Linked DNA regions of Homo sapiens: region 1 is linked to region 2. Evidence: fine-mapped expression QTL. A gene starts in region 2. The other region holds a variant in brackets. All regions are shown on one strand. Distances are from middle to middle.

What was found.
Region 1: its variant is fine-mapped to the expression of MAP1LC3A in whole blood (INTERVAL, PIP above 0.99).

The regions. Positions count from the first base shown.
Region 1 is chr20:34,607,317-34,615,645 of GRCh38, forward strand. The region is part of intron 7 of PIGU (phosphatidylinositol glycan anchor biosynthesis class U); the gene reads right to left. Among named protein-coding and RNA genes, the nearest start is that of MAP1LC3A, 53 kb to the left of the region's middle. The variant T/C (reference allele first, on the strand shown) is at 3,270.
Region 2 is chr20:34,554,670-34,562,998 of GRCh38, forward strand. It overlaps MAP1LC3A (microtubule associated protein 1 light chain 3 alpha), which reads left to right and starts at 4,049. Exons shown (of 4, transcript NM_032514.4): 1 at 4,049-4,239; 2 at 4,539-4,594; 3 at 4,678-4,784; 4 at 5,067-5,676. The coding sequence starts at 4,200. The coding sequence ends at 5,229. PIGU (phosphatidylinositol glycan anchor biosynthesis class U) reads right to left here. Exons shown (of 12, transcript NM_080476.5): 12 at 5,873-6,310. The coding sequence ends at 6,197. RefSeq lists silencers at 3,751-3,840, 4,181-4,230, 5,805-5,854.

The sequences.
Region 1 (8,329 bases), 53 kb after region 2:
CTGGCCTGCCCCGCATCCTGTACTCATAAAAACCCCAGGCTCCACTGGCAGTGGAGTGGCAGAGAGGGAGAGAGAAGCAGCAGCCAGAAGTCAGAGGGAAGCAGCTTGATTTCAGACGGACACCTTGATGGCGGGACCTCGGAGAAGAGTTCAGCCAGGAATGACCGAACTGAGGGGAAGACCACCTTCCTGCTCCATCCCCTTTCCAGCTCTCCATCCCATTGACAGCCACTTTCATCAGCAATAAAATCCCCTGCATTTACCATCTCCAATTCATTTGTGCAACCTGATACCTCCTGGATGCCAAACAAGAGGTTGGGATACAGAGGGCTGTCATACTGAGATGTGAAATGCTTAAGCCATCAGAGGATGGCAAAGCTGAAAGAGCACAGTGTAACAAACAACTTCTGTGGCTCCAGGGATCATGAGTACCCCACTAGACATTGCTGTGGGACTGCACAGAGTTGTGCACAGAGTCTGTGCCATGGGACTGCACAGAGTTGTGCCCAGACTGGTCTTAAACTCCTGGGATCAAGTGATCCTCCTGCCTCAGCCTCCCTAAGTGCTGGGACTATAGGTGTGAGCCACTGCACCCAGCTATAATTCCTTTTTAAAAGGCAGAGTAATTGCTTAGTTCTTTCCTTTTAATTATTTACTTTCAGAGTGAGAAACTGGTAAAATAGCCACATCTGATGATGGTCTATGTATTTTTTCTCTTCTTGCCCTTTTAGTGAGCATCACTATGGAGACATGACTTTTTTTTTTTTTTTTTTTTGAGACAAGAATCTTGCACTGTGGCCCAGGCTGGAGTGCAGTGGTGCGATCTCGGCTCACTGCAACCTCTGCCTCCCAGGTTCAAGCGATTCTCGTGCCTCAGCCTCCCAAGTAGCTGGCATTACAGGCACCCACCACCATGCCTGGCTCATTTTGTATTTTCAGTAGAGAAGGAGTTTCACCATGTTGTCCAGGCTGGTCTGGAACTACTGACTTCAAGTGATCCACCTGCCTTGGCCTCCCAAAGTGCTGGGAATATAGGCGTGAGCCACCGTGCCCAGCCAAACACATGGATTTTTATCCAGTGTTTTATAATTACTTGTTGTCATTCTTTTGATGCTCAGAAATTCCCAAATTTGGGTGGTATGAGCCCCTTTCAGCTGGTACCAGTGTTTTTCTGACTTAGTCCTGTTAAGACTTTGAGGACTATTTTGCTTTTTTTTGTTGTTGTAACAAGATGTCCCAGTCAAGCTGTGCTCTTACATACTACATTAGACAACCTTTCCTAGAGGGCTATGCCTACAGAGGGCTTGAAAAAAACTCAGAGAAAAAGATAATGTCAAGAGCAGATGTGTCAGCTCCTAGAGGTTATCAAATCCATTTTGATTTGGAAGTAGAAAGCATTCTGAAGCCGATCAGGGTACAGCCACTCACTCTGGCACTTACAGCTTTGCTACAACTCCCCAGCAAGTGGCCATTCAGCCTCTGGCCTAAACACCATGATTCACAGGGAACTGACCTCACTTAGGACATCTCATTCTGTCACAGAACTACCTTATACTAAGCTTCTTGTACCACCTAACCATTAGTTCTAGCTTCTCTCCTTGGAGCCTATGGATCCCTGTGAAACTCAACTCTAAAGGGTCCACTTAGTAGTCTGGCAGAAACTCAGCCCTAAAGAATAATTTTAGGCTGGTTGTGGTGGCTCAGCCTAATCCCAGCACTTTGGGAGGCTGAGGCGGGAGGATTGCTGTAGCTCAAGAATTCAAGACCAGCCCGGGCAACAAAGTGAGACCCTGTCTCTAAAAAAAAACCAACCAACCAACCAAACAAACAAAAAACAAAAAACAAGCCAGCCATGGTGGCACATGACTGTAGTCCCAGCTACTCAGTAGGCTGAGGCAGGGGGACTGCTTGAACCCAGGAGGTCTAGGCTGCAGTGAGCCATGTTCACAGCACTGCACTCCAACCTAGTTGACAGAGTAAGACCCTGTTACAAAACAAAAAAGAATATTTCCTCTTCTGTTTCCACCTTCACTTTTTTTCACCTTTTTTGTTTTTTTTTTGTTTTTGAGATAGAGTCTCACTCTGTCACCCAGGCTTGAGTGCAGTGGCGCAATCTCGGCTCACTGCAACCTCCACCTTCCGCGTTCAAGCAATTCTCTTGCCTCAGCCTCCTGAGTAGCTAGGACTGCAGGCACATGTCACCATGCCTAGCTAATTTTTGTACTTTTAGTAGAGACGCGGTTTCACTATGTTGGCCAGGCTTGTCTCGAACTCCTAACCTCAGGTGATCCACCCACCTTGGCCTCCCAAAGTGCTGGGATTACAGACATGAGCCATTACACCTGGCTCCTCCTTCATATTTAAACAGATGGTTTTGTTTCCTGGATGTGACTACACTGATCTTCAAATACCCTACCATGACCCACAAGGCCCAGGTGATATAATTTGGCTGTGTCCCCATTCAAATCTCATCTTGAATTGTTGTTCCCATAATCCCCTCATGTCATGAGAGGGACCCGGTGGGAGGTAATTGAATCATGGGGATGGTTACCCCCAATGCTGCTGTTCTCCTGATAGTGAGTGAGTTCTCACAGGATCTGATGGTTTTATAAGGGTCTTTTCCCTCTTTGCTTGGCACCTCTCCTTCCTGCCATCATGTGAAGGTGGACGTGTTTGCTTCCCCTTCGGCTATATTTGTAAGTTTCCTGAGGCCTCCCCAGCCATGTGGAACTGTGAGTCAATTAAACCTCTTTCCTTTGTAAATTACCAAGTCTCAATATCATACTGAATGGACAAAAGCTGGAAGCATTCCCTTTGAAAACTGGCACAAGACAAGGATGCCCTCTCTTACCACTCCTATTCAACATAGTATTAGAAGTTCTGGCCAGAGCAATCAGGCAAGAGAAAGAAATAAAGCGTATTCAAATAGGAAAAGAGGAAGTCAAATTGTCTCTGTTTGCAGATGACATGAGTGTATATTTAGAAAACCCCACCGTCTCAGCCCAAAAACTCCTTAAGCTCATAAACAACTTCAACAAAGTCTCAGGATACAAAATCAATGTGCAAAAATCACAAGCATTCCTATATACCAATTATAGACAAGCAAAGCGCCAAATCATGAGTGAACGCCCATTCACAATTGCTACAATGAGAATAAAATATCTAAGAATACAACTTACAAGGGATGTGAAGGACCTCTTCAAGGAGGACTGCAAACCACTGCTCAAGGAAATAAGAGAGGACACAAACAAATGGAAAAAAATTCCTTG[T/C]TCATGGATAGGAAGAATCAATATCATGAAAATGGTCATACTGCCCAAAGTAATTTATAGATTCAATGCTATTCCCATCAAGCTACCATTGACTTTCTTCACAGAACTAGAAAAAACTACTTTAAATTTCATATGGAACCCCAAAAGAGCCTGTGTAGCCAAGACAATCCTAAGCAAAAAGAACAAAGTTGGAGGCAACAAGCTACCTGACTTCAAACGATACTGCAAGGCTACAGCACCCAAAACAGCATGCTACTGCTACCAAAACAGAGATATAGACCAATGGAACAGAACAGAGGCCTCAGAAATAATACCACACATCTACAACCACCTGATCTTTGATAAACCTGACAAAAACAAGCAATGGGGAAAGGATTCCCTATTTAATAAATGGTGCTGGGGAAACTGGCTAGCCATACGCAGAAAACAGAAACTGGACCCCTTTGTTACACCTTATACAAAAATTAACTCCAGATGGATTAAAGACTTATACGTAAAACCTAAAACCATAAACCCTAGAAGAAAACCTAGGCAGTACCATTCAGGACATAGGCATGGGCAAAGACTTCATGACTAAAACACCAAAAGCAATTGCAACGAAAGCCAAAATTGACAAATGGGATCTAATTAAACTAAAGAGCTTCTGCACAGCAAAAGAAACTATCATCAGAGTGAACAGGCAACCTACAGAATGGGAGAAAATTTTTGCAATCTATCCATCTGACAAAGGTCTAATATCCAGAATCTACAAGGAACTTAAATTTACAAGAAAAAAAACAGGCCAGGTGCGGTGGCTTATGCCTGTAATCTCAGCACTTTGGGAGGCTGAGGCAGGCAGATCATGAGGTCAGGAGATTGAGACCATCCTGGCTAACATGGTGAAACCCCGTCTCTACTAAAAATACAAAAAATGAGCCAGGCATGGTGGCACGTGCCTGCAGTCCCAGCTACTTGGGAGGCTGAGGCAGGAGAATCGCTTGAACCTGGGAGGCAGAGGTTGCAGTGAGCTGAGATTGTGTCACTGCACTCCAGCCTGGGCAACAGAGCAAGACTCAAGTCTCAGAAAAAAAAAAAAAAAAAGACAAAAAAAAAAAAACCAAACATCAAAAAGTGGGCAAAGGATATGAACAGACACTTCTCAAAAGAAGAGATTTATGTGGCCAAGAAACATGAAAAAAGCTCATCATCACTGGTCATTAGAGACATGCAAATCAAAACCACAATAAGATACCATCTCACGCCAGCTGGAATGGCGATCATTAAAGTCTGGAAAAACAGATGCTGGCAAGGATGCGGAAAAATAGGAATGCTTTTACATTTTTGGTGGGAATGTAAATTAGTTCAACCATTGTGGAAGACAGTGTGGCGATTCCTCAAGGATTAGAGCCAGAAATACCATTTGACCCAGCAATCCCATTACTGGATATATACCCAAAGGATTATAAAGCATTCTACTATAAAGATATATGCACACGTATGTTTACTGCAGCACTACTTACAATAGCAAAGACTTAGAACCAACCCAAATGCCCAGCAATGAGACTGGATAAAGAAAATGTGGCATATATACACCATGGAATACTATGCAGCCATAAAAAAGGAGTTCACGTCCTTTGCAGGGACATGGATGAAGCTGGAAACCATCATCCTTAGCAAACTAACACAGGAACCGAAAACCAAACATCGCATGTTCTTACTCATAAGTGGGAGTTGAACAATGGGAACACATGGACACAGGGAGGTGAACATCACACACTGGGGCCTGTCATGGGGTGGGGGACAAGGTGTGGGAGAGCGTTAGGACAAATACCTAATGCATGTGGGGCTTAAAACCTAGATGATGGGTTGATACGTGCAGCACACCATGGCACATTACATAGGTTTGTTATACCTATGTAACAAACCTGCGCATTCAGCACATGTATTCCAGAACTTAAAGTAAAATTTAAAAAAAAATTATTTCATGTACCATCAGCAAAAACAAATAAATAAATAAATAACCAAGTCTCGGGCAGTTCTTTTTCTTTCCTTTTCTTTTTTTTTTTTTTCTTTTTTTGAGACAGAGTGTCACTTCATCACCCAGGCTGGAATGCGGTGGTGCGATCTAGGCTCCTGCAACCTCTGCCTCTCGGGTTCAAGCAATGTTCCTGCCTCTGCCTCCCGAGTAGCTGGAATTACAGGAACACTCCCCCATGTCTGGCTAATTTTTGTAGTTTTAGTAGAGACAAGGTTTCGTCATGTTGGCCAGGCTGGTCTCAAACTCCTGACCTCAAGTGGTCCACTTGCCTCAGCCTCCCAAAGTACTGAGATTACAGGTGTAAGCTACCACGCCTGGCTCAGGCAGTTCATAGCAGCGTAAGAATGGACTAATACACCAGGCTACTTCATATATTTATAAAAAATATACAAATATAGTAGGAAATGGAGTTTTAATTTCTGCATAAATGGGATCCTGAAGTTCATCTCAAACTCCTTCCGCTCCTGTCCCCCACATACAGACGGTTACCAAGCACAGCCAATTCTACCTCCTAGAATTCCCCTGCATCTAGTCTCTCATCTCTCCATCTCCTCTGACACTGGTTTGGGCCCCCAGTTTACCCCTCTGACTTGATCTAGTACAATGTTCTAAGCTTTCCCAACTTCAGCTCTTCCTACTCCCATCTACCCGACAAGCTGCTGCCAAAGCAATCTTCCTGGAGCACTCACCTGCTCAGCATCCTTCAATTGCTTTATGTCTGCAGTCTGGCATAGTATCTAGCACACTATAGGTACTTAGTAAATATTGGTAGAGGAGCTGCTTGACTTAATGAGTCAGTTGTACTGTCCACTAGTGTCAGGAGGAAATTTCCTTTAGTTTTAAACAAAAGTTGTTTTATATAAAGTGGTGCATAGAGATTGGCTTAAGAAACCATTTTTATCTTCTTTTATTTACTTATTCATTTTTTGCAGGTTGGACAAGCTCAGAAACCATTTTTAAATTTCTGGTCCATCCATGTGTATGAATATACTATATTATTTATTTGATACATAGTTGTATAAAAAGTCTGGCTATATATATTCTTAGTGCTTAGACTTTCTAAAGAATAAGCCATAAATAGGAAATAAAAAAGAAAATACAAGCAGCACATTGTTATGTGGAAAAATGCTTCAACTCAGCAAGAATACAGAAAGAAAATCAAAGCAAAATAACTTCACTGTATGGTGACACATCTACTGAACTGGCAATCATAAATCAAACTTGAAAAGTCAGTGCTGGCAGATGAGGAGGTAAGTGGTCCACTTCTCTTTAGATACTGATGGTGGCACTGCAAACTGGCTCAGGCTTTCTGGTGAACAATCTGGTATAATTGCCTAATAAGAACAATACGACTTTTCACCTTGGGTCCAGTGATTTAGCTAAAGCAACATACTTGAAGAAAATAATTTCAAGCTGGGCACAGTGGCTCACACCTGTAATCCCAGCACTTTGGGAGGCCAAGGCAGAAGGATCGCTTGAACCTAGGAGTTTGAGAGCAGCCTGAGCAACATGGCAAAGCCCTGTCTCTACAAAAAAATACAAAAATTAGCTGGGTGTGGTGGTGCATGCCTGCAGTCCCAGTTACTTGGGAGGGTGAGGTGAAAGGATTGCTTGTGCCCGGGAGGTTGAGGGTGCAGTGAACCGTGACTGCGGCACTGCACATCCCATCCTGGGCAACAGAGTGAGACACTGTCTCAAAAATAAGAAAAAGAAAAAGAAAACAAATAAAAACAAATTTCTGGCTGGGTGAAGTGGCTCATTCCTATAAACCTAGCACTTTGGGAGACCAAAGTGGGTGGGTGGATGGATTGCGTGAACCCAAGAATTCGAGACCAGTCTGGGCAACATGGCGAAACCCCATCTCTACAAAAAATTAGCCGGGTGTGGTGGCACACACCTGTAGTCCCAGTTACTCAGGAGACTAAGGTGAGACGATCGATTGAGCCTGGGAGATGGAGGCTGCAGTGAGCTGAGATTGTGCCACTGCACTCCAGCCTGGGTGACAGAGCAAGGACCTGCTCTCAAAAAAAAAAAAAAAAAATTTCTACGTTATTTATATTAGTGACAATATAAATGACATATCTCAAACATAAATAAAGACATATCTCAAATTCCCCAAATAAGAAAAAGATCAAGCAAACCATGAATCATTGTCTGCATCAACACAATATTATAAAATCACTTAAAATAACATGCATATGGCCTATTTCAATAAATGGAATACACACTCAGCTTTAGCAGTGCTTGTGATTAAGAAAGGCTCTGAAATCAGACATTTCTGGCACTGCCACCTGTACACTTTCAAGAAACATTTATCTTGTAAGAATGGATTTGGACCATGTGGGGCCTGCATGCAGTTACTTCCTCTTGAAGAAACATGTATGTACTATTCTCATTTGAGTAGAACAAGATGATTAGAGAGCACGCTCTGGCATCAGATGGCCATGGTTCATATCTTAGCAATGTCATTCGCTGGTCCTGTGACCTTAAGTGACTTAACCTCCCAACATTCTAGTTTCAATTCATTTGTCTAATATGGCTAACACTAGACTAATATTTGGCTAATAATATGACCTACTCCATAAAGTTCTTATGAGGTTAAAATGAGACGATGCCTACAGAGTGCTTAGCATGGTGCCTGACATGTAATCCATTCTCAGTAAATGTCAGCAATTTGCATTCTTCAATTAATGTTTATTGATCAGCCACTATGTTCCAAGCATTGTTTCAGATGCACATACTCCATTTAAGTCCTATAAGAATCTTACAAGGTGAGTGTTATTATAAAGAAAAGTTAAAGAAATGAGCTCAGAGGGGATCACTAGTTGAGAAAAGAAAACTGCAAGATAGTTGCGTTTGCAAATATGTAAAATAAAATGCACTTATACATTCCCAAGGATATGCATATAGTAGTGCCCCCCTTATCTGAGGTTTCACTTTTCATGGTTTCAGTTACCTGTTGTCAACTGTGGTCCTTAAATGGAAAATTCCAGAAACAAACAATTCATAAGTTTTAAATTGTACACCATTCTGAGTAGTGTGA
Region 2 (8,329 bases):
CCTGTTTTTGTTTTTTGAGATGGGGTCTCTCGCTCTGTCGCCAGGCTGGAGTGTAGTGACACAATCTTGGCTCACTACAACCTCCACCTCCCTGGTTCAAGCAATTCTCATGCCTCAGCCTCCCACGTAGCTGGACTACAGACACGTGCCACCATACCCAGCTAATTTTTTTGTATTTTGTAATTTTTGTATTTTGTATTTTTTGTATTTTTTTTTTTTGTAGAGATGGGGTTTCACCATATTGCCCAGGCTGGTCTACAACTCCTGGACTCAAGTGATCTGCCTGCCTTGGCCTCCCCAAGTGCTGTGATTACAGGTGTGGGCCACCACACCTGGCCTATTTTTTGTTGTTGTTGTTTTTTGTTTGTTTTCAGCATTTTTTGTTGTTTTTCTGAGAAAGGGCCTCTGTCACTCAAACGATCCTTCCTGAGTAGTTGGGACTATAGGTGTGTGCCACCAAAGCCAGCGAATTTTCTTATTTTTTTTTTTTTTTGAGACAGAGTCTCACTCTTGTCACGCAGGCTGGAGTGCAGTGGCATGATCTTGGCTCACTGAAACCTCTGCCTCCCGGATTCAAGCAATTCTTGTGCCTCAGCCTCCCAAGTAGCTGAGATTACAGAATGCACCACCACACCCAGCTAACTTCTGTATTTTTAGTAGAGACAGGGTTTTGCCATGTTGGCCAGGCTGGTCTCGAACTCCTGGCCTCAAGTGATCTGCCCACCTCAGCCTCCCAAAGTGTTGGGATTACAGGCGTGAGCCACTGTGCCTGGCCTAATTTTCTCATTTTTGTAGAGACGGGGTCTCACTATGTGGCCCAGGCTGGTCTCAAACTTCTGGGCTCAAATGATTTTCCAACCTGGGCCTCCCAAAGTGCTAGGATTACACTATTACTCCTTCTTAAATTTCTTTGAAACTCTGCTCATGGATTTTCTGTATTTATTATCTAAGTAATACATCTATGTAATAAGGCTATAAATCTGATTTTTTTTTTTTTTAAAGAAATGGATCTTATTTTGTCACCGAGGCTGGAATGCAGAGCTGCAATCACAGCTCACTGCAGCCTTGAACTCTTGGGCTCAAGCAATTCTCCAGTCTGGGCCCCCCAAAGTGCTGGGATTACAGGTATGAACCACCACACCTGGCCTGCCATGGCCCCCCTCCCAAGTTTTCTTTCTTTTTTTTTTTTTTTTGATGGAGTCTCGCTCTGTCGCCCAGGCTGGAGTGCAGTGGCGCGATCTCCATTTACTGCAAGCTCCGCCTCCCAGGTTCGAGCCATTCTCCTGCCTCAGCCTCCCGAGTAGCTGGAACTACAGGCGCCCGCCACCACGCCCAGCTAATTTTTTGTATTTTTAGTAGAGACGGGGTTTCACCATGTTAGCCAGGATGGTCTCGATCTCCTGACCTCGTGATCCGCCTGCCTTGGCCTCCCAAAGTGCTGGGATTACAGGCGTGAGCCACTGCGCCCGGCCACCAAGTTTTCTTAGCATATGTATCCTCATTTTTTGTTTGAACTAAATAATTTTTATTTATATATGACTTCATATTTAGAATAGGTTTAAATTTCCACACAGCTGGAGCTTACGCGGCTTTTGTCTGTGGCCAAAGAATATGGTTGAAACTGATTTGATATCTGTTGAGATTTGTCGTGCACCCTAGTAGTTGGGTCATTTTTGTAAATGTTCCTTGTGTGATTGAAAATAATGTGTTGGTCTCACACAGGTCTGAAATTTAAATTTTAAAAGTTAAAAAACTAACTGTCAGGTTTTCTATTGGGGTTCATTGATCTTGATTAGTAACTGTATTAACATCCTCTATGTCCTTTTTTTTTTGGTTGTTTGGTTTATTAGTTACTCAAAGAGGTCTTATGTCTCCCTATGATGGAGGACCTGGCAATTTCTCCTTGTGTTCTTAATATATTTTCAGCCTCTTTTTTTTTTTTTTCGAGACAGAGTCTCACTCTGTTGCCCAGGCTGGAGGGCAGTGGCGCAATCTCAGCTCACTGCAACCTCCGCCTAGCAGGTTCAAGCAATTCTTGTGCCTCAGCCACCTGAGTAGTTGGGATGACAGGCGTGCACCACCACGCCCAGCTAGCTAATCTTTGTATTTTTAGTAGAGACAGAGTTTTGCCATGTTGGCCAGGCTGGTCTTGAATTCCCAGCCTCTAGTGATCCACCCACCTCGGCCTCCCAAAGTGCTGGGATTACTGGCATGAGCCACTGCGCCTGGCCTATTTTCAGCCTTAAAAACAAAAACCCTGGAACATAGAAGTTCAGAACTTTCCTCTCTTCACAGAGTTCCTCCTCGCATCATTTCATGTTGATCCTCTTATCCCCAGTGTCTTCTGCCTGAAGGCCTATTTTGTCTGAGTTTTCTATAGGTACATCTTTTGGTTAGTTTTTCTCTAGTACACCTTTTCCCATCGTTTTACTTTTTGGTGCCCTTAGGTTTTAAATTTCCTCTTGTAAATAGCATAGAGCTGCATCTTATTTTTTCTTGGCCAATCTGGTCATCTGTGTTTTAAGAGGTGAATGTAAACCACATTTTCTACCTCTGGTTTTGTACTATATATTTACCATCCCTTTTACTTTGCTTCCTTTTTCTCCCTTTCTGCCTTCCATTATAGTTTTAATACCCATCACTACCCTTTTCTCTGCATTGGCAGTTATAGTTCCGTTTGTATTCTTTTGGTGATCCTCTTAAATATCTGAAATACACACCTGACTTTACAAAGCCAGACAATGCTCAGTCTCTTTAACCCCCTCTCAAATTGCCCTCTCAGTCTTCCATGTTCTTGTGTCTCATGCATCTTGTTTCTGTGGCCCACAAATTAATCATTATTATTCATATTGCATATTAAATGCTTGTTTAGATTCACATGTTTACCAATTTGCTCACCATTTTTCCATCTAATTTCTTCCTTTTGGGTTCCATGTCCTTGTTACTAAACTACATTCTTTAAAAATTATTTCGGCGGCCAGGCGTGGTGGCTCACACCTGTAATCCCAGCACTTTGGGAGGCCGAGGCGAGTGGATCACGAGGTCAGGAGATCGAGACCATCCTGGCCAACATGGTGAAACTCCATCTCTACTAAAAATACAATAATTAGCTGGGGGTGGTGGCAGGCGCCTGTAATCCCAGCTACTGAGGAGGCTGACTGAGGCAGGAGAATCGCTTGAACCCGGGAGGCAGAGGTTGCAGTGAGCTGAGATCGCACCACTGCACCCCAGCCTGGCGACAGAACGAGACTTCGTCCCCCTCCCCCCTCCCCCAAAAAAATGTTGATCTTCAGTCTGCGCATTCTGCTCTGGATTTTAAGCATCATTTCTGGCAGCTCTTTTTCAGGAACTGTCTCTGCAGGTCTTTCAGTGTTCGCCTCTGGAGCTCTGCTCGGGCCCGCGAGTTCTCCTGGCGTTGCCATCTGTGCCCTTTTCCTTATTCCCCATCACCTGTCTCTCTGGTGAGCTGCTTCCGATCAGCCTCCAGGTCCACGATTTCTCTTCTGTTGTCCTTTTCTGCCTTCTCACCTCATCCTCTGAGACCTGAATTTCGATGGCTCTACTTTTCAATTATATTATTCTTTTTCAAACCTGGGCGTTCATTTCTAGCATCCTGTTCTATCCTGTGTCTGACTGTGCCTCCCGCACCTTCTCCCTTCTCTCGCCCTAAGCCCCGTGAAGGCGCCGGGCCTTTGGCTCCGGCTGTTTCCCACGGCGCCCAGAACCGCGTCAGTCCTGACACAGACTCGGTGAGGGCGGGAAGTGGTGCCGTGGGGCTGCAGCCTGGCCCGCCCGCTCCATCGGCCTAGGGCGGCCCCACCGCCCTCCGGGCCTTACCTTGAGTTCGGGCTGCGGGAGAAGCTCCCGCGCTGCCCATGACGTCACGGGACTGTGACGCGCCCAGAAGCCCCGCCCCTCGCGTCCCGGTCCGCGGACCCAGGCTCTCTGCGCCGTGACGTCACGGGTCCGGGCGGGCGGGTTGTGCGTCGGCCCAATGGGAGCGGCGCACTGGCCTCCCCTTTAAGGAATGTTGTGACCTGACGTCACCGGGCGAGTTACCTCCCGCAGCCGCAGCCGCCGTGCTCAGCGCGAGCCCCGGAGCCCTTGAGCGCGAGGCGCGGAGCCCCCGGAGCCCCCAAACCGCAGACACATCCCCGCGCCCCAGAGCCCCGGCCTGCGCGCCCAGCCGGGCCCGCGCGATGCCCTCAGACCGGCCTTTCAAGCAGCGGCGGAGCTTCGGTGAGGCCCGGCAGGCGAGCTGCGAGCTCTGGGGCAGGGGTGCCGGCCGACCCCGACTGCCGCAGGTGACGTCAGCCCCGTGACGTCAGGCTCTGGCTGGACCCTCGGGCTGGGACCAGCTCCGGCCTGGGCGGGGGCTGCCCGCTTCCCCACCGCGATAGGTGCCAGGGGCTGTGGGGCCTGATGGCCCCGGGGGTGGGGGCTGGAGCTGGGGCGTGGCCGGGGGCCGCCCCTCCGGGACAGGCGGGGCGGACCTGGGCCGGCCCGACCCGGCCTCACGGTCTGGCCGCTGTCCGCAGCCGACCGCTGTAAGGAGGTACAGCAGATCCGCGACCAGCACCCCAGCAAAATCCCGGTGAGTCCCGCACCCCCAGCCCTGCCCCGCCCCCGCCTCGCGCGTTCCCGACACGACCCCCTGCCCGCCCGCCCTGCTCCCAGGTGATCATCGAGCGCTACAAGGGTGAGAAGCAGCTGCCCGTCCTGGACAAGACCAAGTTTTTGGTCCCGGACCATGTCAACATGAGCGAGTTGGTCAAGATCATCCGGTGCGTGGGCAGCCGCCGCCAGGAGGTGGCTAGGGTCGGGAGGGGAGCCGGGTTCCCGCCGAGAAGGGGTGGGAGTGGGGTCAGGGGTGATGGGACCGGGCGGTGGGCCCCTGTTCTGGGGTGGCTGGAAAGGTCAAGGTCGGGGCTGCAGTCGGTGTTGGGTCAGAGGTGACAGCTGGGGTGAGAATGGGTGTGAAAGGCTGGGAATCATTCTGGGGGTCAGGGCTATGTCCGTCCCGCAGCCAAGCCCCTCACAGCTGCATACTCTCCCGCCGGCTGCAGGCGCCGCCTGCAGCTGAACCCCACGCAGGCCTTCTTCCTGCTGGTGAACCAGCACAGCATGGTGAGTGTGTCCACGCCCATCGCGGACATCTACGAGCAGGAGAAAGACGAGGACGGCTTCCTCTATATGGTCTACGCCTCCCAGGAAACCTTCGGCTTCTGAGCCAGCAGTAGGGGGGCTCGGCCTGGGAGTCGGGCGGCCCCGGTCAGGCCCTGCCCAGAGAGCTCCTGGTTCCTGAACTGAGCTGCCTCTACCGTGGTGGGCTGGGCAGGCATGTGCCCCCCTAGTCAGAGGGCACCAACCCACCTACTCTGCCCCTGGGTGGATCCTGGGCCGGTCGTGTTAGGGTTGTCCCTCTGGGTGCTGGCTGGTGGGATGGGGGAGGGTGGGGAGCAGCTCCCAGCACCCCTGCTGTGTGGTTCATCTTTTTTTTAGGCCCCTGCCTGTCTGCCCATCTGCCCCTCACCCACCCGAGGCTCTGCCCACCGCCTGGACCTGCCCACCCCTGAAAGACTGGCCCCTGGCTCCCCGCCCCTCGGTCTCCACGTGGTGTATGGATCTGTGGTCATTGTCCCTCTGCAGAATAAAGATTGCTCAGGCCTGCCTGGCCCTGTGCCTCCAGCCGCTTGCTTGGGAGTGGGGAGGGTGCTGGTGGGGCTGCCCGCACCATCCCCGGGCTCTGGCGCACAGACTTGTGTTCTGTGGCCGCGGTGCTCGCTCTGGAAACCCACACCTGTGTGTAGTGTTCCAGAACATTATTAGGGGCCACCCCCTCTAGGAGTGCAATGCAGATGTGGTCTCAGGGTAGACTTCATAACAAAAAACATTTATTAAGTAGCCACAATCTAACAAGCCCTGCTCACCTGCCTCTTCTCCTTCCTGTCTGGGAGGGGGCTCCTTGGTGTGCAGAGCCACAAGGTGGGGGTCCAAGTTGGGGAGCTCCCAGTTCTTCCCCATAGGCCTTGCTGTCAGTCAGCCATGGGTCCCTTTTGGTACCAGAGACTTGTGACCCTGGACTCGAACCTCTTCTGCCCAAGCACTCGCCTGCTGGCAACTCTGGCTGGAGGGCTTGGCCCAGCTTCTGGCCCCACAGCCCCCTGAGGTCCATGCAGCCCTGTGCCAGCCAGGCCTACTTGAGCACGAGCATGGCCTCTGTGCCATCCTTGGCGGTCAAGTAGAGGCCATGTGTGAGGTAGTACTCCCGCCGCAGGAAGGCATAGAAGTAATCAGAGATGAGCAGGATCTGGGGGGAGAGAGAGGGTGTGAGGCGCTGCTGGGTACCTCCCCCTAAACCCAGGATCCCTGAACTGCTGGCAGGTGTTGTTGGAAGACAGGAACGCCCCTGCCTGGCTCTGGATCACAATCACTGGAGAGGCCCTCCTCAGGGCCCCCACCTCAGGGCCCATAATTGACCCTGCAAGGTCTGGCCTCTCAGAAGCTGCCTGGACTCCCCCTGCCCCCACCCATGGTCTACACCTCCATCCCAGGCTCTGGCCTCGAATGCCAGCCTGGTGCCTGTGCAACCAGAGGCCTCTGCCCCATCCTCCCACAGCCACTTCCATCCCAGCCAGGTCCACATCAAACTCCTCACCTTCCCTCTGTCAAATACACTTCTCCCACTCAGCATCCATGCCCCCATCTTCCAGCCAGGTGCCCAGGCCACAAAATTGCCCTGACACTTCTCTCATACATCGAGCCACCATGACCTGTCAATTCCCCCTAAACTCAAATCCACCCTTTGGATCCATCCCCACAGTCACTACTCTGGACAGAGCCACTGTCATCTCATCTCCTAAACAACAGCAAAGCTTGGTCCTTGGGCTCCCTGCTCTCAAACCCGTGCCCACCCCATTCTCCCTGGCAGCCAGAGGGAGCTTTTCAAAACCCACATCTGATGGTGTTACTTCCAGCCTTCAAATCCTCCAAAGGCTTCCCAAGCCTTAGGGCAAAGCTCGAACTCCCTCGTGCTCTGAGACCTTGCTAGGGTCCCTGTCCGCCCTCTCCCGGCTCCACCTCACCCCACGGCAGGATCTTTACTGTTTCTTCTGCCTGGAATGTTCTCTCCCCGTTCATCTAGTTGACAGCTGCTTACTCTTCAGGGCTCAGGAAGGATCACTTGCCCCCCAGATTAGTTCTTGGCCCCACTAATCTCTACTCGATAACAGACTCATCGAAAGTGTAATTTTCCATTCAGCTGACAGCCTGACTGTGCCTCCTCCCCTGGCCCGGGGCCTCCATCAGGGCAGGGTCTTCGAATGGTTCTGTCACTATGGTATTTCTGTGCCCAGCTCAGTCTGTCTGTCCCATTCTGGGCCACACACAGAAGAATCAAAGGGAGCCTAGAAGCTCAGCCCACTGTCTCTTCAAGGAGGCCCAGAAAGGAATAGGGATTTGCCAAGGGCCCTATACACCAGACCCGGAGTCTGCAATCCCAGTCAGCCCAAGCTTCCCAAGACCACTGGTCCCTGGAGCAGGTTGGGCAGGGCCCAGCCTCAGAGAAGGATGAGGGGACAGGGGCTCACACTACAGACACCGCAGCTCTCAGGCACCTGGAGGCCTCAGAGGATTGGCACCAACCACCTGGCACAGATGGGGAGACTGAGGCACAGAGCACTTGGCTATGGTCTTGGGGCAAGACAGGTTGAGCTAAGCCTGGGATCTAGACCTCCAGACCCTGTCCTGGGCAGCTTCTCACTGACCTGAAGGTAACACAACAGCAGCTAAGGAGAGATCAGAGGCGCCTGGAGGAGTTCAGGAAGGTGTCCTGTCACCAGCAGCTCTGATGGCCTCAGGACAAGTACCTGCCATTCTATCACCACAGAAGCCCATCTGGAAGGTTGAACAATCCTCATCTTAAACAGATGGGGAAACTGAGACTCAAAGGGTTCAATGGTTGGCCTAAGGCTACACCTGGAGCACTGGACTAATGGCCATGGACCCAGAAAGGTGGTCTGCCTGGGGCCCAGATCACTGATGAGCACGAGATTGGTCACAGCGTCAGCAAAGCAGACAGAGCTCAGGCAGCCCCCGAGGCCCTGCCCCCAGCTGCCCAGCTGGCAGCTCCAGGCTGGCCCACTGGGGGGCAGTGATCACAGCAAAGGCTGACCTCATACCCTGCAGCCCTTTCTCACCCAGGCCCGAGATGCCATCTGGGCAGGAGGAGCCCAAAGCAGGGGCTGAGCTCAGAGGCTGATCCCTGAACCAGGTCAGCTGAGGGGCAGGTGCAGTCACAATCCACAACAATCAAAACGAAGCAACTCCA